Linked DNA regions of Homo sapiens: region 1 is linked to region 2. Evidence: fine-mapped expression QTL. A gene starts in region 2. The other region holds a variant in brackets. All regions are shown on one strand. Distances are between the middles of the regions.

Region 1 (12,430 bases), 110 kb after region 2:
CAAAACTCATTCACATACAGAGTCTTTTGGTGGACAAAAATAATTATTACCCACAATTGACAGTGACAGTACTGAGAAGCTGGGAAACTGAAGTAGGACCCTGGAGCAGCCAAGTACAGAGACTGGCTCCCAGGACCTTAGGAGTTAATACTATTCCTAAAGAGAATAAATTGTCAAATAGACAAGAAATTCATGTGGGTTGATGCATTCACTTCCCCAAAACAATTATTAAGCAGTAGAAATGATAACTACGCTGGTAGTGGAAATAGTTTACAGTAAAAGGGAGAAGACATGCAAAAACCAAAAAAAAAAACGGGGCCGGGCGCAGTGGCTCACTCCTGTAATCCCAGCACTTTGGGAGGCTGAGGCGGGCCGATCACGAGGTCAGGAGATCGAGACCATCCTGGTTAACAAAGTGAAACCCCGTATCTACTAAAAATACAAAAATTAGCCGGGCTTGGTGGTGGGTGCCTGTAGTCCCAGCTGCTCAGGAGGCTGAGGCAGGAGAATGGCGTGAATCCGGGAGGCGGAGCTTGCAGTGAGCGGAGATCACACCACTGCACTCCAGCCTGGGCAACAGAGCAAGACTCCGTCTCCAAACAACAACAACAAAAAAACAGGCAGTGATGTTTTATGTGGGTCAGTGTGAAGTAGAGATCAAAGGAGAAAACGGCCAATCTTACCAAATAATGGATGCAGAAATAATCTTCATGGAGAAGCCACTTTAATTATGTCTTAAATGAGAGTAACAAATTAAACATAAGAACCTGTAGGGGCTAAGGGAAAACTTACTCTTTGGCCTCTGAAGAGTCGCTGAAAACCACCGACAAGAGGAAGATTAATAGGATAAAATGCATCCAATTTATTATTATTATTATTATTATTATTATTATTATTATTATTTTTAGACGGAGTCTCACTCTGTCACCAGGCTGGAGTGCAGTGGCGCAATCTCGGCTCACTGCAACCTCCGCCTCCCGAGTTCAAGCAATTCTCCTGCCTCAGCCTCCCCAGTAGCTGGGACTACAGGCATGTGCCACCACGCCCAGCTAACTTTTGTATTTTTAATAGAGACGGGGTTTCACCATTTCGGCTAGGGTGGTCTTGACCTCGTGGTCTGCCCGCCTCAGCTCCCAAAGTGCTGGGATTACAGGCGTGAGCCATTGCACCCGGCTGCATCCAATTTATTAATGTGTATATTAATAAATTATCCAATTTATATCCAATTTATTAATGTGTATTAACATGTACAGGGGAAATTGTCCATTTTTATTTTTTAGATTCAACAAAGTATGGGCCGCCGTGTAGAAATAGGATTGCTAATAAACAGAGTAGGGAAACCCAGCAAGGCCTGTCTGTCTAGATTCTTCTTCGCCTCTCTGTGCAGCATTCCTTCCTTCTGGATCCTCTCTGGAATGCGGTCTGGTGATCTATGATCAAATAAGGTAGTTCAGATAATTTCTTTATGGCCAGTTTTTACACAGAAAAACAGAGGGAAAGTTAGAGTAATATTTTTAGGTTTTATGGCTGGGCTCTGGGGAAAAGGTGTTTTGATTTCTATGACCTAACTTGAGGAAGAGGAATTCTCATTTCTATGGCTAGACTCCGGGGAGAATGGGACTCAGAGACAGGAGGGCAGGAGAAGATCAGAGAAAAACTTTGGCTTCTGCGGTCTTTATTTTGGGGTATTGTTTTCTGAGTTCCAACAAACCCCAAGGACCTACAAAGACTGCATACTTTTTTTTTCCTTTTTATTAATTGTGAGATAACCACAGCATAGGCAATTTGTTTTTTGTTTTTGTTTTTGAGACAGGATTTTGCATTGTTGCCCAGGCTGGAGTGCAGTGGCATAATCATAGCTCACTGCGTCCCCAAACTTCTAGGCTCAAGAGATCCTCCCAGCTTAGCCACAACTGAGAGGTGCTACTAGCATTTAGTGAGTAGAGAACAGATATGACTAGAGGTTCATTAAGTGTTTTGAGCCTTTACAGCTTCAAAATTGTCTTTGCTAACCCCTAACTTTTGGATGCTACAGAGGGCCCCTGGAGTATCCAAAGGAGAGGTAAACAGGATCATTTGACACGTTTAGTTATATAGGATTGTTGAAATAAGGTGATATTTGATCTTCAGGTCATATTTCAGTGAAAACTGTGAATGTGTGTTCCAAAATTATAGGGGATTTCTAGAGTTCTGATATCTGAGTTTGTGTCATCAGTTATAATTAGAGTTATTGTGTTAGGCTATTGTAAATCACAGAGGTGACTAAATTTCTTTGTCAATTGTGTTTTTGACTGTGACTACCCTAGGACATTTTAACATTCATAGACAAATGTTGTCTTGTTTTGAAACTCTGCAAAGAATGGATTATAACCCTCAATTGCAGGTTTCTGATAACTTTGAAGATTGTGAACAGGAGTTAACTAGGTGAGCTGAACTATTGGAAAACTAATCTTCTTGACTCTTGCCTCTGTACCTAATTCTTCCTGGATGCAGGACAAGAACTCAGGCAAAGGTGCTGCAGCATAAAGTCTGGCCAGAGAAACTGACACTCCAGAGGTTTTGTAACAATATTTTATGTTAAATAATTTATACGTATTTCCTATTCTAAGCATTTCAAGTGATTGTAAAAACTCAACTCATGAAAACTTATAGCTGAGATGATGTATCCTGTGATTTTTAACTCAACTTTATACCAATCTAAGTTGATTAGCATTCTTACAAAGTTTAAGAAGTTAAGATTTGCCATATTAAGTATTGTCTTAAGATTTTTAAGAATTGAAAAATTTGGAGCAGTTTTGTTCATTAGTCAATTGGATACTTTAAAAGTCCAGTATGTCAGATTTAAAAATTGCAATTTATAAGTTTTCTTCTTAAAGTTCGTCAAATTGCAAAAGCCTTGCCAAAAATGAATGTTAAAAATTTGGTAGATTATTTGTTCTATGGGTTCTATGGGAAAAAATTGGTAGATTAATAAATGCCAATAGTAAGCATTGTAAATTGAATTTAAAAGTTTAAGGAAGAGCTATTAATTTAATTTTGTCATAATAATGAATTGAATGTTGTTTTTTAAGTACCATAGTACTTGCTGAATGATCTTTCTGTATGGAAAAGGACATAAAAATGCACATTGGTAACATCAACTCTATTTCAGCGGCGGGATTGTGGGGTGAGCTTATCTCCAGGTTTGGGAAGGATGTGTTGTATCATCTGCCTCTTGTGTGTGTACTACCTGCCATTGCTGCTTGGCCACCAGCATCCATCTTGGTGAGTCCTGTCTCCCTCTAAAAGACTCGAGCTGTGCTGTTCAATCCAGTAGCCCCTAGCTACATGTAGCTATTGTAATGAATTAAAATTAAGTAAAATTAAACATTCTGCTCCTCAGACACCAGTCACATTTCAAGTGCACAATAGTCACAAGTGGCCAGTAGCTAGTTTTGAACAGTGTGGAAAGATTTCTGTCATCACAGAGCATTCTATTATCACGTTGTAAAGCATTCTCTAGCTCTTGCAAACTTGTCAGATCCCTTAAAAGTTCTTAAAAATAATTCATCATTCGAATTTTGCTCAGACTAATTTTTAGGGAAGTCTTTTTCTGGAGGCGTGGACTTGTGATCTCCATAATTCATCCCTTCTACTATGTTAGTTACCTTGAGCTGCTGTAATAAAATACTATAGACTTAGTCGCTAAAAAAAAAATAACTTTCTCACAGTTCTGGAAGCTCAGAAGTCCAAGATCCAGGTGCTGGCCAATTCAGTTTCTAGGTGAACGCTCTCTTCCTGACTTGTTGGTGGCAGCAGCATTCTCACTATGTGCTCATGTGGTGTCCTTTTTGTGCTTGTAGGGCTTAGGCAGTGGAGAGAAGGAGGAGAGAAAAAGAGGTCTCACTGTTTTCTCCTTTTCCCGAGACAGGTTCTCGTGTAGCCCAGGCTGGACAGCAATGGCTCACTGCAGCCTCCTCCTGGGCTCAAGCAATCCTCCCACCTCAGCCTCCAGAGTAGCTGGAGCCTCAGATGTGTACCACCACACCCAGTTCATTTTTTAAATTTTTAGAAGTTGGGGGTCTCACTATTTTGTCCAAGCTGGTCTTGAACTCCTGGGCTAAAGCGAGCCTCCTGCTTCAGCCTCTCATAGTGTTGGAATTACAGGCATCAGCTGCAGCACCTGGCTCTATTGTCTTTTTTTTTTTTTTTTTTGAGATGGAGTCTCTATCACCCAGGCTAGAGTACAGTGGTGTGATCTCACTGCAACTTCCACCTCCTGGTTTCAAGGGATTCTCCTGCCTCAGCCTCCCAGGTAGCTGGGAGTACAAGCGTGCACCACCACACCTGGCCAATTTTTGTATTTTTAGTAGACATGGGGTTTTACCATGTTGGCCAGGCTGGTCTCAAACTCCCAACCTCAGGTGATCCATCCACCTCAGCCTCCCAAAGTGCTGGGATTACAGGCATGAGCCACTGCACCTGGCCTGTTGTCTCTTTTAATAAGGGCATGAATTTCATCATGAGAGACACATCCTGATGAGTTTGTCTAAATATAATGACTTCCCAAACGCCCCAGCTCCAAGTACCATCACACTGGGGGTTAGGGTTTCAACATATGAATTTTGCGACGGGGAGTCAATTCAGTCCATAGTACCTACTGTATTAGTTTTCTGGGGCTGCAGTAACAAAGTACCTCAAACTCGTTGGCTTAACAACAGATATTTATCGTCACACAGTCCTGGAAGCTGGAAGTCTGAAATCAAAGTATCATCAGGTTTGATTCCTTCTGAAGGCAATGAGGGATAATCTGTTCCAGGTTTCTCTCCCAGCTTCTGGTATCCCCAGACTCATTGCTTGACTTGAATGGTGATTCTCCCTGTGTCTACTCACCACATTTTCTCTCTATAGGTGTCAGTCTCTGTGTATGACATTTCTCCTTTTTATAAGGACACCCTTTATGTTGGGTTAGAGCCCACTCTTATCTTAACTGATGAAGTGCAAAGACCCTATTTCCAAATAAGGCCACATTCACAGGTCCTGATACAGGAGGGGGAAAGTGCTGGGAAGGGAAGGGCATGGTCCCTTTAAATGATATGGAAGTGGGGAAGGGAAGGGCGTGGTCCCCGGCTAGGGCTCCACCCCCAGGCCTGTGCCCAGGGACCACGGTGAGGACAGGCATTTTTGTTTTCCTGCCCAAATGTTGCATTTCCCAAGACCTCCCCTGGCCTGCCACAAGACACGAATAGCTGGACGTCCAGGGGAGCACACTGGCAGAAGAGCACACAACAAACGTTTGCCTGGCAAAATGAGGCGGAATTTGACTGGGGTGGTTGGAGGAGAGCCTGGGCCACTGAGTGGCTGACTCCAAGGGAAAACTTTCCCACTCCATCCACTTTTGGCTTTGCCCAACTGCTGAGAGCTACCTCCACTTAATAAAACCTTGCACTCTTTCTCTAAGCCCAGGTGTGGTCTGATTTATTCCGGTACACCAAGGCAAGAACCTGGGATACAGAAAGCCTTCTTCTGTCCTTGGGACAAGGTAGACGGTCTAATTGAGTTGGTTAACACCAGCTGCCTATAAATGGCAAAACTAAAAGAGCACCCTGTAACACACACCCACTGTGGCTTCAGGAGCTGTAAACATTCAACCCTAGACACTGTGGTGGGGTCATGGGGTTGGAGACCCACAACCTGCCCGTCTTAATGTTCCCCTAGAGGTTTGAGCAGCCAGGCACTGAAGAAATTAGCCACACTCCTATCACATGCCATGCGAGCGGGACAAGGGAACTTTTCCCATTTCAGTACTGGTGGTTAGGACTTCAACAACTTTATTTTTGTGGGAATGCATACTTCAACCCATATTATGAGGGTTCCTAGAATGTGGACTGCTGAGGCTGAAGCACTACCTAAGTGCCTGAGGCCAGCCTGCAGTTGGTTTCTGGCTCTCATGAGTTAGCTAACATCTCGGGAGAGAGGAAGACAGGCCTAGGAAGAGCAGAGCCCACGATTCATTCTTCATTCCACCTCTGCTCTTCAGAATCTCCTTCAGTCTATGTGATGAGCCATCAGACCTCTTGGTGGGAAATGGTGCTGCCGTGCCTAGCCCTTTTCGATTGTGCTACCATGCTGAGATTACTGAGGGACCAGGAAGGCCTGGACTCAGACCATATAGGGTGCCACCCTAGTGGGAATGGAACCTGTCAGTGCTGGGTGAATGTGACCGTCCCATGAGGAGAAGACAGATACTCTTGCCAAGCTGAGCATGGAGACCTGATGGGACACTCATTATCATGAGGGGATGAAGATCCAGGCTTCCAAAGTTGGTACCACAGGGTGGCTATGGCATGAACAGGGGGTTAGGATGAAGGACCCAGAATCTAACATGCTGGAGAGGTAGGGAAAGGAGTCAGAAATTCAGTCTTGTTGAACCCTAAATATTGCATCTCTCTCTCTCTTTATTTTTTTTTTCTGGAGATGGGGGTCTGGCTCTATCATCCAGGCTGGGGTGTAGTGGCATGATCTCTGCTCACTGCAGTCTCCGCCTTCTGGGTTCAAGAGATCCTCCCACCTCAGCTTCCTGAGTAGCTGGGACTACAGGTGCGCGCCACCACTCCCAGCTCATTTTTGTACGTTTTTGTAGAGACACGGTCTCACCATGTTGTCCAGACTGGTCTCGATCTCCTGAGCTTAAGCGATCTGTCGCCTCGGCCTCCCAAGAAGGATTGGGATTACAGGGCCTGAGCCACTGTGACCAGCCAACATTGCATCTAATTTTAGGGTATTCATCTGACTTTCCTGAACACTGCTTCTTGGGTGCTCATTTTAGCAGGCATTTGGCCATAGGTAGATTTAAAGTTTTGGTGGGTTTTGTTGTTGTTGTTGAGACAAAGTGTCACTCTGTTGCCCAGGCTGGAGTGCAGTGGCAAGATCTCAGCTAACTTCAACCTCCATCACTGTGCTTCAAGTGAGTCTCCTGCCTCAGGCTCCCGAGTAGCTGGGATGACAGGTGTGTGCCACCATGCCCTGCTAATTTTTTATATTTTTAGTAGAGATGGGGTTTCGCCATGTTGGCCAGGCTGGTCTGGAACTTCTGACCTCAGATGATCTGCCCGCCTCAGCCTCCCAAAGTGCTGGGATTACAGGTGTGAGCCACAACCCCTGGCCAACGTTTTCTGAAAAAGCTATTCTAATCAGGTAGGAAAGATGGGAAGCGGGGTGGCGGGGTGTACTTTTTTCTGCATATTCAGTTGCAGGGTCCCAGACCAGGGAACAATCTTCAATCTCTTACCTTCAATCTCCCTTCATGGAAGTCAGTGCTCAGCCTGGCCATTTACTGTGTGCAGTAGGTGTGATGTAGAAAGCCTCTAAACCTCCATGCCTACCTGCCAGGAACAATATACACAAA[GGT/G]GTGTGTGTGTGTGTGTGTGTGTGTGTATCTTACGGATTCTTCCACGTAACTATGTGGACATCTAATCCATTGCTTCCAACTCTATATTGTGCAGTGACTTCATTTTACCTCCACCTCTCTCAGTGAAGGATATCAGTCAGCCCACACTTTCCTGTCACCTTTATGGGATATGTTTGAGATGATATTTGGAAAATATTCCCAGGGAGTGGGCACTCCCATCAGCAGTGTATGAGGATTCCTGAGTCTCCATATCCACACCAATACTGAGCATTATTCAGCTCTCTAATTTGTTAATGCTCTCTTTTAAATGCAAAAGGACACATCACTTTACCTTTCTTTCATTACCAAGTGCTTTGGATTTTCCTGTATCTAAATTTCTTGTTCATTTATTTCATATATATATATATATATATATATATATATATATATATATATAATTTTTTTTTTTTTTGAGACAGAGTCTCACACTGTCACCCAGGCTGGAGTGCAATGGTGTGATCTCAGCTCACTGCAACCTCTGCCTCCTGAGTTTAAGTGATTCTCCTGCCTCAGCCTCCCAAGTAGCTGGGATTATAGGCACCCACCACCACGCCCGGCTAATTTTTTGTATTTTTTGTAGAGATGGGGTTTCACAATGTTGGCCAGCCTGGTCTCAAACTCCTGATCGGCCCGCCCTGGCCTCCCAAAGCGCTGGGATTACTGGCATGAGCCACCGCGCCCGGCCTCATACATTTTTTATGTGGAGTTTCTGTTTTGTTCTTCTTGGCCTTGTGCATTCTAATTACTCATCCTTTCGTCTGATTCAGACATTTAATTCTCTACCATCCTTACAGCAGTGTCTTAACTTTATCCATGGGATCCTTCATTGAACCGGAATTCTTAATTTTGACACAAACAAATTTATCAATTTCTTTTTTGTGTGTGTTTTTTTTTTCTGTGTGTGGTTTTTGTTTTTCACATTTCTGAGTATGACCTAGATTTATCCTTTGATAACTTCTTCTCTCTTCCCCATTTTCCTCCACTGGAGGTCAGCTATATGTGTGTGAGAGGGTTAGGTATATGTGGATATATAGAGAAAGTTTAGGTATACATATGTGGAGAGGTCAGATAAATATGTATATATGGGAGAGATATTGGGTATATATTTTGGGGAGGGGAGGTCAGGTATATGTGGACATATGGGGAGGGGAGACCACAGCTCTCCTGGAGTCACCCTCTTCCTCTTCCCTTCTGGGCAGGTAACGGTGGGGAGTGAGAGGGTGTTCCTCCCTTCTTATTATTAGCCCCTGGGTACTTTAGGGTCTCTAGTGGTTATTTTTCACAGAATTTTAACTGATAACTAATGAACAAATGTTTTCCCCACAGAAATATCTTTACGCCTTTTACAATCATTTTTATTTTCTATGCCATAACTTTATTAATATTTGCCAATTTACTTGGGGTAGGACTTTGAAAATTTTGTTTAAATTAAGGGAGGAGACCACCCCTCATATTGTCTTATGCCCAATTTCTGCCTCCAAAGAAAGAAAAAGTAAAAATTAAAAGGGAGAAATGAAATCCACAGGCAAACAGCCCGGCACCGCACCCTGGGTCTGGTTAAAGATCGACCTTTGACCTAACAGGTTATGTTATCTATAGATTCCAGACATTGTATGGAAAAGCATTGTGAAAATCCCTGTGCTGTTCTGTTCTGTTCTGATTACTGATGCATGCAGCCCCAGTCACGTACCCGCTGCTTGCTCAATCAATCACGACCCTCTCATGCAGACCCCCTTAGAGTTGTAAGCCCTTAAAAGGGACAGGAATTGCTCACTCAGGGAGCTGGTTTTTGGAGACAGAGGTGATTAACGGACGGTCAAGGCAGCCCCTTAGGCGACTTAGGCCTGCCCTGTGGAGCATCCCTACGGGGAACTCCAGCCAGTTTGAGCGACACAGATCTGGAGAGCGCTCCCAGGTAGGCAATTGCCCCGGTGGAACGCCTCACCAGAGCAGCACGTGGCAGGCCCTCGTGGAGGATCAACGCAGTGGCTGAACACCGGGAAGGAACTGGCACTTTGTTGTCAGGGCATATTCCAAAAGCATTAAGGCCTTCCTATCAAAAATCCTTAACCCAGTAACCCGCGGATGGCCCAAATGCATTCAATCTGTAGCGGCAACTGCTTTGCTAACAGAAGAAAGTAAAAAAATAACTTTTACAGGAAACCTCATTGTGAGCACACCTCACCGGTTCAGAAGTATCCTAAGGAAAAAAGAAAAAAGAAGATGATTTAACATTAACCACTGAAAATTCTCTTAACCCGGCAGGTTTCCTAACAGGGGATCTAAATCTTAATTACCATACAAAGCTCTGACCAGACCTAGGAGGAACTCCCTTCAGGACAGGAGGATAGATGGTTCCTCCCAGGTAATTAAAAAAAAAAAAAAGCCATCTATACCAATTCTAAGTTAATTTGGACTAAATAAGGTCTTATTAATAGCAAAGGATAATTGAAATCCCAAACTTACAAGGTTTTCAACAAAAGTAAAGTTTGCTAAAAGTTAACAGTGTAACATGTATTATAGTAACTTCTAATCTTGTGGCCTTAGACAGTCTAGTCCACAGACATAAAAGAAGTTCGCTTTGGAAAAGAATGGTTATCATCCTCGGAAAAAAAAAAAAGGAAATAAAGAGGAGGCAGAATTTATATAAAAAAGAATGTTGTATGGAAAATCCTTGTCCTGAGATAAATTAACTAGTTGTTTAAAGAAAGGGATGTTTGCAATAAGTCAGAAAGTTGAGGCATGTCGAAGAATTGTCTGTGAAAGTCATGAAAAAAATGTGTGTTAGAAAAATAAATTTATGTAAGAAATGTTGTATAATTTAAAAGTAATTAGGCCTCCTTCTAAATGTAAAACTATTGAATAAACAGTTTATGTGCAAGGTATGTAAGGAAAGTAAAATATACCTTTGGTAAAAGGATTATGAGGATGCATAAGAATGTGGATTTTTACCTACATTAAAAGGTTACAAAAATTGTTTTGAAGGTTTAAGCAAGTTTTGAAACCTTAATTGTAAAGAAAATTCTGTGTCTAAACATATTGGCTAAAGTTAAGGGGTATCATACAGTTTTTCTGTGAACTGAACATTAAAATAAAAACACAACGGGTTTTTCTTAAAGCACTAACCTGTTCTTTAACAAAAATTATAAAAGGTTAAAGAAAAGTCTATAAAAATCTTACCTTATGGTCAGACATTAAAAATCAAATAAATATGTCTACAGAGTTTTATTAAAACTAAGTTTAACATTAATAACACACCAATATAAAGGTGAAATCTAGCTTATCTGGTATAAACATACAAGAAGCGTTGTCAAATATAAAATGGCATTTGACTTTCTTTGGTCTAAAAACTAATAAAAATAGGTGCTAAAGGAAATTTCTCAGTAAGAAGGCACCAAGGACTATAAAGTCCACTGCTGATGTCCCCACATTTAAAACAAAAGGTCAACTTCTTAAAAGTTATATACTTGGTTTATCTTCCACTTTCCTTTCCCTCAAAACTAAAAGTCTTTTAGCACATGTACCACCCCTAGAATTTTCTGTAAACCAGCACCAGCCTGAAGATCATGTTCTCATCAAAGGGTGGAAAGAAGGAAAACTTGAGCCAGCCTAGGAAGGACCCTACCTTGTGCTGCTAACCACCGAGACTGTTGTTCATACGGTGAAAAAGGGATGGACTCATCACACCCGAGTCAAGAAAGTGCCACCCCCTCCAGAGTCATGGGCCATAGTCCCAGGGGAAAACCCTACCAAACTAAAGCTAAGAAAAATTTAACTCCTTCATCTATTCTATTACTCTTTCTTCTTCCCTCACTCTATTTCTGACCATCTAGTTATTAACATAACCAAGTCAATTTTGCCTCAAACTATTGAATTTAATGCTTGCCTTGTTATACCCTGTGGGGACTTGCCAAGTCGAAGACATCTCTGTACTTCAGAAAAGTACCTCTGTCCCTCCTGACTCTCCTCAGACTGAGCCTTAGTAAACTGAGACCATTTATTCCAGAGAGATTTCAATAAAGACCCCAGTGTCAACGAGGAGTCTTGCCCCCCGATGTAGAGCTTTTATGCCATAGTTGGTCGAATGTTGTGTGGACCACTAAAGAGCAAGGATGGACTGCCCCAACCGGTTTTTGTAATTTCCTAAAATCATACATTCATTTTACTAGAGGGTCATAGAAGTTAAAGACTTAAAACAAACTTTGATAATTAAGCAGGATACCAAGATGCAAATGCCCAGTTGGAATGGATCAAATATTCTGTCCACACATTAAACAAAACCAATTGTTATGCTTGTGCACATGGCAGGCCAGAGGGCCAGATTATCCCCTTTCCACTAAGGTGGTCCTCCTGTTGACCAGGCATGGGCTGCATGGTAACTGTTTTCCAGGATTCTACAGCCTGGAGTAATAAGTCGTGCCAAGCTCTCTCTGCTATATCCCAAAGTCCAGCACCCTGCAGGTCAACCCCTGAGGGCCATCCAGCTTCCATCTCCCAAAACTAAGTTCACTTCTTGTCTCTCATGACAGGGAGGAAACTTAGCATTCCTTGGAGACCTGAAGGGATGCAGTGAGCTTAAGAATTTTCAGGAGCTTCTCAATCAGTCAGCCTTTGTTCATCCCCAAGCGGATGTGTGGTGGTATTGTGGTGGACCTTTACTGGGCACTCTGCCAAATAACTGGAGCGGCACTTGTACTTTAGTCCAATTGGCTATCCCTTTCACCCTAGCATTTCATCAACCAGAGGGAGGAAAAATAAGACATCGTAAAGCAAGAGAAGACCCTTATGTGTCTTTCAACTCTCACATCTATTTAGATGCAATTGGAGTCCCACAGGGAATAGCAGATCAATTTAAATCCCAAAATCAAATAGCTGCAGGATTTGAGTCAATATTTTGGTGGGTGACAGTTAATAAAAATGTAGATTGGATAAACTACATCTATTACAACCAACAGCAATGAGTTTTTCATGAGTTAAAAGAAAAACTCATGTCGGCCCCAG
Region 2 (12,430 bases):
TACTAGCTGCTTCTGGGGCTATCCGGGGAAAATTATCCTTGCAAAACCCCCACTCACTTCCAGAGCAGGCTTCAGTGAAGCAGTCATCTGTGTCATGACAAGAGCCAAACTCTGTAAAACATTTGAAGAGATTTATTCTGAGCCAAATTTGAGTGACCATGGCCCATGACACAGCCCTCAGGAGGTCCTGAGAACAAGCGCTCAAGGTGGTTGGGATGCACCTTGGCTTTATACATTTTAGGGAGGCATGGGACATCAATCAAATACGTTTAAGAAATGTACACTGGTTTGGTCCAGAGAGGCGGGACAACTGGAAGCAGCGGAGGAGTGGGGTGGAGGTGATGACAATTGGTTGAGTTTGTATAAAGATTTGGGATTAATAGAAAGGAGCACTAGGTTGTGATAACAGGTTGTGAAGACCAAAGTTGTACTATGGGATGAAGTTTTTAGCTAGCAGGCTTCAGAGAGAATAGGTTGTAAAATGTTTCTTATCAGACTTAAAAGCTGTGTTGATGTTAATGCCAGAGAGGAATAATGAGGCATGTTCAACCCCCACTTCCCTTAATGGCCTGAGCCAGTCTTTCAGGTTACATTTTAAGAAGCCTGACTGAAGAGAAAGTCTATTCAGATGGTTGGGGGGCTTTAGAATTTTATTTTTGTTTTATACCTTTGCCCTTGGAAGTTTTGCTGAAAAATGAACACAAAAAAAGGCAGATTCATAAGATAAAAGGCTTTACAATTTAATTACTCTGTGGTTCTCCTCATGCACATAGTACCAATATCCCAGTGGAATTTAGAAGCTTATATGCCACCTTGAAGTTGAAGAAATAACAGGGGCTTGATCCTTGCAAAATAGGTTATGGGAAACAGAAGAAGAGGAATTCTGTTGAGGGGCAATATGTAACTACCAGGAGAGACTAATTGGATCAAAGAACAGATAAATTTGTAAATAGTTCTCCTTGGAATTTAAATGATGCTTAGAGACTGATTATCTTATAAAAGGGTCTGTTCAGGTGTGGTTACATTCTTGGTCTTTCCTATAATGCACAATGAGATAACAGAGAGGGAGAAAAGAACAATTGTTCTCGCTGGTGGGGCCATCCTATTTTTATGTACCTAGGGAAAAGTCTCTTTAGTGTCTGTTGATCTCTAAGAGTTTTTCATTCAAAATACTCATTATATCAGGAAGCCACATTTTGGGGTGAAATTCACTACTCCCTTTTAGAGATACGGGTACAAACTGTTTGTAAAGAATGCTAAGACTTTGCCGGGTGCAGTGACTCACGCCTGTAATCCCAGCACTATGGAGGGGCCAAGGTGGGCAGATCACTTGAGGTCAGGAGTTCAAGACCTGCCTGGTTAACATGGCAAAACCCCATCTCTATTAAAAAAAACAAAAATTAGCCAGGCGTGGTGGTGGGCATCTGTAATCCCAGCTACTTGGGAGGCTGAAGGCAGGGAGAATTGCTTGAGCCTGGGAGGCAGCTGTTGCAGTGAGCCGAGATCACGCCACTGAACTTCAGCCTGGGCAACACAGCGAGACTGTCTCAAAAAAAAAAAAAAAATGCTAAGACTTACTTTGGGACATCCTTTGTCAGGGTCCATGATTCTGATTAGCTCAAGGCAGGTATTTTTTTTTTTTAATAGAGACAGCATCTTGCTATGTTGGCCAGGCTCGTCTCGAACTCCTGGCCTCCAGTGACTCCCCCCACCTCAGCCTCCCCAAGTGCTGTGATTACAGGTGTGAGCCACCACACCGGTCTGGTTTTTTTTGGTGGTTGTTGTTTTAATCCTATAATCCTGTGTCCTTTCTTCCTACCTCTGAGTAGTGCTTACTCTCTCCCCTTTAGTCATTTGAAAAGTTTATCAGAAAGTGGGTGCAGTTTCAGGCTGGGTACCGTGGCTCATGCCTGTAATCCCAACACTTTGAAATGCTTAGATGGGAGGATCATTTGAACCCAGTTCAAGATTACAGTGAGCTGTGATCGTACCATTGTACTTCAGCCAGGGTGACAGTGCAAGAGCCTGTCTCTAAAAACAAACAAAAAATTGCTTTCACACTGTGATGCTATCACATCTCTCCTAAGCTCTTGTTGGGGCTCAGAAATTGATACCCTAATATATGGCCCTTGGTCATATTGAACTGAAGAAGCCTCAAAGTCTCTCTGACATCCCTGCCACCAACTATCCCTACCAAAACACATCGTGGAATTAAAGTTTCTTTATCTACCTAAGATCCAGACCCACCAAAAAGAGCAATTATTTTTATTTACCCTTCCTGTAAGACCAAGAATGTAACCATGCCCGAACGGACTTTCACAAGATAATGTTCAAGTTAATCTCTGTTCCCTGATCTACTTACTCTCCCTAGTAATGAAAGGAGTTGGCCAGCTTGCTTTAGGCAGACAGTAAGGGAATGGTACCCAGAGAACCTCTGACCTGCCCCACAAGTGCTTACACCGGATGTTTTGTGCAGATAAGGGAACTTGCACAGGGGGCTTGCCTAAACATGCCTGCAGTGGATGATTCCTTTCCTTAACACATGCACAGTTCAGGAAATTAATCAATATGGAGTAGCTCAGTCTAAAGGCCTGCATGCACTGGTAGGACAGGGTGGAGTTGTCAGGAATTTGAGTCTTAAGCCCTAGTATTCAACTGTGAAGAGCAAACCAGAAATCTGCTTTCAGGACCCTTGTCTTTGCTGAGAGCTTTCCTTTCACTTAATAAATTCTACTCCACTCATTCTTTGATGGCTGCATGCCTAATTCTTCCTGGCTGTGAGACAAAAACCCGGACCTAGCTGAGCGAAGGAGCAAAAATCCGCAACAGTAATCCCATCAACAGAGTTTCTCTTCTTCCCCTCCCATAATCTGTTTTGCCAGGATAATATATAAGCTTTTAAGCCCTCTTGGGAAGTGGATAATCATTCTATGGTTCTCCCTGTGTACATGTTAATAAATTTGTGAGTTGATTTTTCAGCAAAGTTTCCCCAGAAGCCAAAGGGGAAATTTCCCTTGGCCCCTCCACTCTCTTTTCCCAGCTCTTCTTTTACTTTCGTTTTTATTTCCTCAGCCCAGTAGGTCACAGCCTTCTTTTTATTTCTTCTCTGTCCAAACCATCAGTATATCCTACAGGTGGGAGAGAAGCAGCTCTCTGGGAAACCAGTAAGCACCATGAGTTCTGATACTTTCTAGTACCATTTGACATATTAACATCCCCGCCACCCCTAATATGTATGGACACGCACACACATACCACATCACATGCATCACACTAACACAAACTATGTATCACATACCACACACAGCACACACAGTACCACATACCCCACACAACACCCACACCACACTACGTGCATCATGCACATATGTGCACACACCTCTTGTGATGTGTGTTTAGTGCAATTCAGAAAGTTACTCTTTGATTTAATGCACATCACTATGCTTAGAAATATTCTAGTTACTGGGATTCATCAGTGAACAATATTGAAAAAAATCCATCCCTTTGCATTCTCATGAGGGAAGCAAACACTAAACAAAATAAATTAGTAAAATATTCAGTGATAAGTGCCATGGGAACAAAATAGATTTGAAAATGTTTGGGAGGGAGAGAGGGGTACACTTGCTAACAAGTGGTCAGGATAGGGTTAGTTGAGAGGCAAAATCTGAAGGAGTTGAGGAAAGGCATTCTAGGAATAGCTGAGTGCTGACTCTTGCCCACAGTGGGAACACACAGTACAGAGCTTCTGAAGGAGACTCTAGTGACCTACTTCCCATTGTGAGTCTTTGGACTCCTATATCCCATAATCACAGGATCAAGCCTAACTTTACATATTAGAGATAATGCATTCCTCCTTGGGGATAGTTCAGGTTGATTTCTCCCTAGGCCTGCCTTTGTCAACATATTCCTGAAGTCTCATCTGCACCCCATCTCTGCTTCTAATATTGGCCACTCTGTGCATGAACCAGCCCCTCCTTCCTGCAATGGGAAACAGGTGTGAGATGGGACAGCTGTCACAATCCGTTTTGCTTTTGTCTTGCTGTTATTATTGGTAATGGTAGTTTGTTTCCTTTTTAGCATTCACTAGCTTCCTTTTCCTGATCCTTTGATAGTGTTACCAGAAAGGGGGTCCCAACCCAGACCCTAAGAGAAGGTTCTTAGATCTCGTGTGAGAAAGAATTTGGGGCAAGTCTACACAGTAAAGTGAAAGCAAGAAAGTAAAGGAATAAAAGAACGGCTACTCTACAGGCAGAGCATCAGCTTCTGGACTAAGGATACTGATATGGTTTGGCTGTGTCCCCACCTAACTCTCATCTTAAATTCCCACATATTGTGGGAGGGACCTGGTGGGAGGTAATTGAATCATGGGGGCAGGTCTTTCCCTGAGTAATTTATACTGCTGTTCTCATGATAGTCAATAAGTTTCATGAGACCTGATGGTTTTATAGAAAGGAATTTCCCTGCACAAGCTCTTTGCCTGCTGCCATCCATGTAAGACCTGACTTGCTCCTCCTTGCCTTCTGCTGTGGTTGTGAGGTCTCCCCAGACACGTGGGACTGTAAGAGCATGAAACATTTTTTCCTGGTATAAATTACTCAGTCTCAGGTATGTCTGGATCAGCAGTGTGAAAATGGACTAATACAGATACTTACAGTTATTTCTTGATTATGTACTAAACAAGGAGTGGATTATTCATATGTTTTCTGGGAAAGATGTGGGCAATTCCCAGAACCAAGCGTTCCTCCCCTTTTTAGACTATATAGGGTAGCTTCCTGACATCGCCATGGTATTTATAAACCACTATGGAGCTGGTGGGAATGCCTTCTAACTTGCTAACACATTATAATTCGTGTATAATGAGCAATGAGAATGACTAGAGGCCACTCTTGTTGCCATCTTGATTTTGGTGGGTTTTGGTCAGCTTCTTTACTGCAACCTGTTTTATCAGCAAGATCTTTATGACCTGTGTCTTGTGCCAACTGCCTATTTCATCCTGTGACTTACAATGCCTAACTTCCTGGGAATGCAGCCCAGTAGGTCTCAGCCTTATTTTACCTAGCCCCCATTCAAAATGGAGTCATTCTGGTTTGAACACCTCTGACAATAGGACAGATCTGGAATGAGCCATGCCTGGGTACAGAGTCACATCCACAACAATGAAAGTTGTAGATATCTGCAAGGACTCATCGTGGGACCAAGGATTCAGGGGCTCATTCTTTCTCCTCTCTCTGTGTGCTGGTTGCCTCAGGAGTAGAATGTCCCATGCTATGCATGGGGTCTGCAACCATCATGCCAGGGCATGATGAATCGTAGGTGGCAAAACAACAGAAGGCTCTGTGAGCACCCAGGAGGGTGCAGTGCTGAAGAGTCTTCTGCTTGGTATAGGAAGAAAGGAACGTGTTTCCCAATCTTGCCTTTATTTTGAGTAGTTGGACCAGAGGGATTGCAGCTGGGCCAAACTCCATGTTCCATTGGCTATCAGGGTCAGCAGGCAGGCCAGGGGCCCAGACAGGCCAGTGGCTCCCAGAATTCAAGTTTAATTTCTCCTCCCACCTGTGTCCTGAGCTCCCCTTACTGGTTCCCTTGGACCACTGCATCTACTTAAGCCAGCATTTATTATGTTGTTATCATAAATGCCTCTTACACCTGAGACTTATAAATGTGACAAGCTCTTATTGTGAGATAGTAATCCATCTTTTTTCCCCATGAAATAATAATTCTAACGGGTGGTGATAGTACTTTTCCTTTCATTTTGAAGTGGAGAAGCTGGAGCTAAGTCATTAAGGACTTGACCCTGGACCCCACAGCCTTTTCTCCACAAAGCACAAAGCAGAGTGATGGTCCCAGGGATCCCACACAGCTCTAAGCTGGGGGCACTCACTGCTGGGCCACTAGTGACTCCCATTTTCTATCCTGGCTGACCCTCGCTATTGAAGAAGATCTGAGTCCTGCAGAAGGACAGCAAGGAGAAAAACAAGACACAGAACGGGACAGAGAAGAATAGAAAGCTGACTCAGATGAATTTTGTGATGCCAATGAGTCCTACTGCTGTTACCACCCCTTTTTCCACCACACCCTTCAGAGCAGTTATAGAACCACAAGCAACCCATAAATAGCAAAAGAAGTAACATCAGCTAGGAAGGCTTAAGGACTCCCAAGGGAGTTGGTGGCAAAAGTAGAAAGATCTCAAATCAGAGTCTGTGAACTGAACCTCTGCAGGCTTCCTGTTTTTAGATACTCTGTGTTGGGGTCACATGATAGTTTACAGGGTTATTAATTGGTTCCTTCTTTTTATTGCTGTAAAAGAAGGATATTTTCTTCCTACGTTTCCCCCTCCTTTACCGGAGAGGCGGAGTGCAAATGATATGAACAACGTCACTAGTTTTCTCCTAAATCTTATGAGCCCCGCCTCCCACAGTAGTTTCACTTCTCAGTTTAATCCGGTCTGAGTTAACTTCCTGACCCAGGAAGTGGCAGCAACAGAGGGGACTAGCAGCGAATATGTAAGTGTCTGAGCAGTGAAGGTTACGGAAAAGGTCCAGGCTAAGGTTTTCTCAGTGGATATGTGAGTGTGTACTGATGGCAAGTGGGGTGGGGAATATATTTCGTGACAGCAGGGCCCCTCCAACTCTGAAAATGGTCAGGACTTTCTTTGTTTTACAGCTCTCACCTCTTTCCTGCTCTTTCTTTCACCAGACTTTACACCAAATCTCAGAAGATTCAGAACTTAGATGAGTGGGGCCCAGGACAGGAACCCTGGAGCCTTGGAAGGAGGGGAGCCCCATCTCCCCAGAAGAGCAGTGACCCCAGCAGAGAGGGGCCTGGTGTATCACTGGAGGAAATAGCCTGCCAAGGAATACACGTCTTCAGAAGAAATTCTGTGTGGCTTCAAGAGACTGATCAAATTGTGAGAGGAAAACAGCCTACCCGGTAATTGTAGTTAAATTACTGTTTTTTATTCTAGGCACTCTTCAAACTTCCTCCTGACTCTGCCCCTGTCCTAGAGGAGCTCCCAGGAGTAGGGGTGTGGGGGCGGGCGGGGGGGAGGGATCGGGGGTACAGGGAGAGCCCAGCTAGGTTCTCAGAAGAGGCAGGCTTTTTCGCTCCTGGTCACTCCTCTGTTGCCTATCCCTGGCCTCCCCCATCTTCTTTCTGCCTTCCCTACCTCCTTGGGTCTGCAAACTCTTTATGTTGCAATCACTCTGAACATGTCTCTTGAGATAGGTCCTGTCCTGGAGAAGAGATAGTAAAAGTAAACTCCCCAGTTCTGCAGGAGCTCTGATCCCATAGAAATAACTGCTCCTCAGGAGCAAACCCTCTGCTCTGCAGCCTTCTTTCCAATTCTTATTCCCTCAGTTTAGGGAGAGGGCACAAAAAGGATAAACCGGTTCTTCTGGTTGTTCTGGTTGCCTTGATTGCTTCCATTATCCTCCTGGTTGGGTCTCTAGCAAGACGTTATTAGCCAGGGAAGTCCCACTTAGGCACCCCTCTCTGCAGAAGAGGTATTCACTATTCTCCTTTCTCTTTCTTTTGCCTATTATACCTCTGCTCCTGAAAGCAAAAACAACAACAACAAAAACACAAACAAAAAACAACCGACCTTATTAACCAGTGTTGGTTGTTGTTCTTTGTGGGGGATGGGGGGGGTCGAGGTGGAGTCAAATTTTATTGTCATGATGGTGTAGGAGCCAAGGGAACACTTCCCCTTTGCCTTCTGAAGTTCACTGAAAAATCGACTCACAAAAGGCAGGCTAATTGGAGAAAAGGCATACAAATTTATTAACAAGTACATGGGCTAGAATCACAGAGTGATTACCCCCTCTGCCAATGGGGGTAGATACTTATATAGCCTTATTTATAAATACTTATGTATAAATACATAAATATAAATATGTATGCATATGTATGTATGTATAAATATGTATGTATACTGTATAAATATGTATGTATAACGTTTATACATGTATACATATTTATTTCAGAGGGGAAGGGTGATATCAGGAGAATATAGGTAATTCTTTGAGGGGCAGTAAATGATTACTAGGGAGAATAAATGAATATTTGGGAGGATGAATGAATGGAGGAACAGAGTTTAACTTGTAAATGGTTCTCTTTGGAAAATGAATGAGCCTGAGAGACAGACATTATTTTGTGAAAGTGTCTGATTAGGTCTGGTTACATTCTTAGTCCTCTTTTCTTCAGTACAAAATGAGATAATAGGGGTTGGAAGGAAAAACAATTGTTCTTCTTGTCTAGTGTGACTGGTCTTTATGTAGATAGGGGAAAAGTCTCTTCCAGCATCTGCTGATCTCTAAGGGCCTTTAATTCAAAATACTCATTATACCAGGGAGTCATATATTGGGGTGAAGCTCCCCATACTCCTTCAATGGAATCTGTCACAGATCACCCAATTGCATAAGTGTTACTACTAATTACAAAGAGTAATTCTGGTACCAATTATTCTTTTTTTTTTTTTTAAGACAGATTCTCGCTCTTTCACCCAGGCTGGAGTGCAGTGGTGTAATCTGGGCTCACTGCAACCTCCCCCTCCGGAGCTCAAGTCATTCTCCTTCCTCAGCCTCCTGAGCAGCTGGGATTACAGGTGTGCACCACCACATCTAGCTAACTTTTTGTATTTTTAGTAGAGATGAGGTTTTGCCATGTTGGTCAGGCTGGTCTCAAACTCCTGACCTCAGGTGATCTGCCCGCCTCGGCTTCCCAAAGTGCTAGGATTACAGGCGTGAGCCACCGTGCTGGCCTGGTAACAATTATTCTTGAAGTTAACTAGAATAGGAAAGAGTTTCACACTCCCTGAGTTCTCTCTTTTACAGCTTTTGTGAGGAAGCCTGCATTGCTTCTCCCAGCACTTGGTCCAAGGTAACTTTCTGTGATAACAGAATGTTGTATATTGAGGCTGTTATGTAGCCACTAGTCACATGCAACTATTAAGCAATCAAAATGTGGCAACTGGAACAGAAAAACTGAATTTTTTCATTTTAATTTTTATTAAGTTAAATTTAAATTCCTACTCATGATAGTGGCTACTGTATTAGCTATACAGCTAGATGTTTGTGTATCCTCTAAATTCCAATGCATTTCTTCTTTCTGGAGAGAAGACTTTAGCTGGACATGGTGGCACATACCTGTAGTCCCAGCCACTCTGCCAGGGTGAGGCAGGAGGATTGCTTAAACCCAGGAGGTCGAGGCTGCAGTGAGCTGTGGTCATGCCACTGCCCTCCACTACAGCCTGGGCAAGAGAGCGAGAACTTGTCTTATAAGAAAAGAAAAAGAGGCTGGGCACGGTGGCTCATGCCTGTAATCCTGGCACTTTGGGAGGCTGAGGCGGGTGGATCACAAGGTCAAGAGATCGAGCCAACCAACATGGTGAAACCCCATCTCTACTAAAAATACAAAAATTAGCTGGGCGTAGTGGTGCACACCTGTAGACCCAGCTACTACTCGGGAGGCTGAGGCAGGAGAATCGCTTGAACCCGGGAGGCGGAGGTGCAGTGAGCCGAGATAGCGTCACTGCACTCCAGCCTGGGTGACAGAGTGAGACTCCGTCTCATTAAAAAAAAAAAAAAAAGTTAGAAGACTGAGAAAAGAAAAATAATGAAATAATTTAGAGCAGTCTGAGCTATGTGAGGTATGCAAAATTTATCAGGACAAGTGAGGCAGGAGTATAGGTCTTCAGTTAAGACCCCATGTTTAAAAGCATTTTGTTCCTGACTGGCTGCCTCATCTATTACCTACATATTCCCGAGATTTGTAATACAAAGAACAATGTATAGCCAGTCAAAAGCTTATGCTATTTTAATGTAAATTCTTGGCAAACAACTTTAAAACTGCTTTAAAACTGCTTTTTTTCCTCTAAACAACCACTTGTAACTGCTTGCTAATGAGGGCAACTTGAAACTCTGCACTTGGGTTGCAGTTCTCAAACGTGGCCCAAACAACCTCAGCCTCAACTTCTTCCTTTTAGGTCCTCTTTTCTTCAATACAAAATGAGATAATAGGGGTTGGAAGGAAAACCTTCAAGACCTATGGAAGTCAGTTGCAGCCAGCTCATCACATAGAGGTGCAGGTGAGGTGTATTTTCATCACGGTGGAAAATTCTGGCTGCTTCATCTCCATCTCTAGAGCCAATATTGGAGCTTTTCAATAAAAGCTATGGCCTCAACCACCAGCACCAAGAAGATGATGGAGGAAGCCACCTGCTCCATCTGCCTGAGCCTGATGACGAACCCAGTAAGCATCAACTGTGGACACAGCTACTGCCACTTGTGTATAACAGACTTCTTTAAAAACCCAAGCCAAAAGCAACTGAGGCAGGAGACATTCTGCTGTCCCCAGTGTCGGGCTCCATTTCATATGGATAGCCTCCGACCCAACAAGCAGCTGGGAAGCCTCATTGAAGCCCTCAAAGAGACGGATCAAGAAATGTCATGTGAGGAACACGGAGAGCAGTTCCACCTGTTCTGCGAAGACGAGGGGCAGCTCATCTGCTGGCGCTGTGAGCGGGCACCACAGCACAAAGGGCACACCACAGCTCTTGTTGAAGACGTATGCCAGGGCTACAAGGTGAGTGTGTGGGCCCGGGAGCTTTGGTAAGTACCAAGTCTTATCCTGCTCCCCAGGAGCTGAGATGATTTAACTTGAAACCTAACATTATGACTTGGAAATACAGCTTTCATCATGTCATTCTTCTGAAAAATAGTTTATGATGATTTCTTGCTCAATTATCTAGACTGTCCATCCTGACCTTCAATGGGATGGTTGGACTCTTATCTCTATCCATTTGTGTTATGATGAATTTCTTTTTGCTTTAGAACAGGTTGTTCTCAAACCAAACACCCGCATTTTTTCTTGTTTCACACCATGAATATCATTTGAAAAACCACAATATGTAAAGCCATGCAGTAGGGCCTGAAAACAGGGAAGAAAGACCCATCACCTTTTAGGTATCTACAGTCTAGTAAAGAAAACAAACCATCAAAAATGTCTGCCTGGAGGTCCCTGGTTTTGGTGGTGGGGAGGGACATTTAGGGTAGAGAGTGGTTCATCTTAGAAGTAACTCCTGAAGGACACGTAAAAATTGAACACCTATTGGGGGATTTTCATTTGGGGAATGAAGGGTCAGTGACATTGAAAATATCACTCTGGTACCTCTACTTTTTTTTTTTTTTTTTTTTTTTTTTCCTGAGGTAGGGTCTTGCTCTGTATCCCAGGTTGGAGTACAATGGTGCAATCTCGGCTCACTGCAGCCTCAACCTTCTGGGGCTCAAGCAATCCTCCCACCTCAGCCTCCCAAGTAGCTAGGACTACAGGGATGCCCCACCATACCTGGATAATTTTTTTATTTTTTGTAGAGACATGGTCTGCCTTTCTTGCTTATACTGGCCTCAAACCCCTGGTCTCCCTCCCATCTCAGCCTCCCAAAATGCTGGGATTAGAGGCATGAACCACTGTGCCCAGCTACTGTGGCATGTCTATGATAAAAGGAATATCAAGGAGTAAAATTCAAACTATCCGTATAAGAAAGGGAGGAGAGGGCAGATTTTAAGCACGATTCAGGAAGAAGAGTCAAAGATTTGGAAATGCTTGGTTGTGGAAGGTGAAGCAGAGGGAGAGGTTTTGTGTACCATCCAGATTTCTTGCCAGAAAGCATATTAAGGAAGGTGGGACTTTGCTGTTGGCAGCATGGAGGAATGGGCATAGTCCTGATGTCCTTTTTCCTTCTCTGTCCTGCCTAAATTTGAGGAAAATGTTGTCTCCAGTGTCAGGCTCCTTATTCTGTCCTCCATGAGGCAGAGGTGGTCTTGTATGAAGGCTCTAAGTCCTTCTAAGGACATGTCAATCATGACCACCACTCAGCTCATGGCAGCTCTTCCTTAAACTCCATGGAGCAGCTAATAACTGCGATGATCATATTCCCATTTGAATTACTTTTCCACCAAGTAGTAAGAAAAGGAACCAGCTTATGTTGAAATTGAGTTTTGTCACTTACTAGATGGGCAATTTTGGGCACGTTACTTAATGTCTTCACACCTTGGTTTCTCCATCTGTAAATGGGGATAATAGCAGTGTCCTCCCTCCCTAAAACACATACACAGGAGGTGGTTATAAGCTTTGAGGACATTAAAATATAGAATGCATAGAATAGCACTTGGCATATAGTAAGGACAATGTCATCTTTTGCTAAAACAGTTACATAGAACCTTTTCCTGAGAACACTCGAGAATGAATGAGTATACTTGTTGGGTTTACAGAGGACAGGAGACAATTCTTTCAGCATTGACTACAATTAGCAATTTGGGTCAGCTTCAAATCACTTTCAATAGAAATATGAGAAACTGTTTTGAAGAATAAGCTAAAAGCTTGACATGAATACTAAATCATTTTAAATTGGATTCATGATACCATTGTTCAA

The links.
Region 1: its variant is fine-mapped to the expression of TRIM38 in whole blood (INTERVAL, PIP above 0.99).

The regions. Positions count from the first base shown.
Region 1 is chr6:26,066,182-26,078,611 of GRCh38, forward strand. No RefSeq gene overlaps it. Among named protein-coding and RNA genes, the nearest start is that of HFE, 15 kb to the right of the region's middle. RefSeq lists enhancers at 432-931, 8,829-9,329, 9,330-9,830. The variant GGT/G (reference allele first, on the strand shown) is at 7,388.
Region 2 is chr6:25,956,353-25,968,782 of GRCh38, forward strand. TRIM38 (tripartite motif containing 38) reads left to right here and starts at 6,450. Exons shown (of 8, transcript NM_006355.5): 1 at 6,450-6,503; 2 at 6,697-6,930; 3 at 9,983-10,581. The coding sequence starts at 10,171. RefSeq lists a cis regulatory region at 2,318-2,622.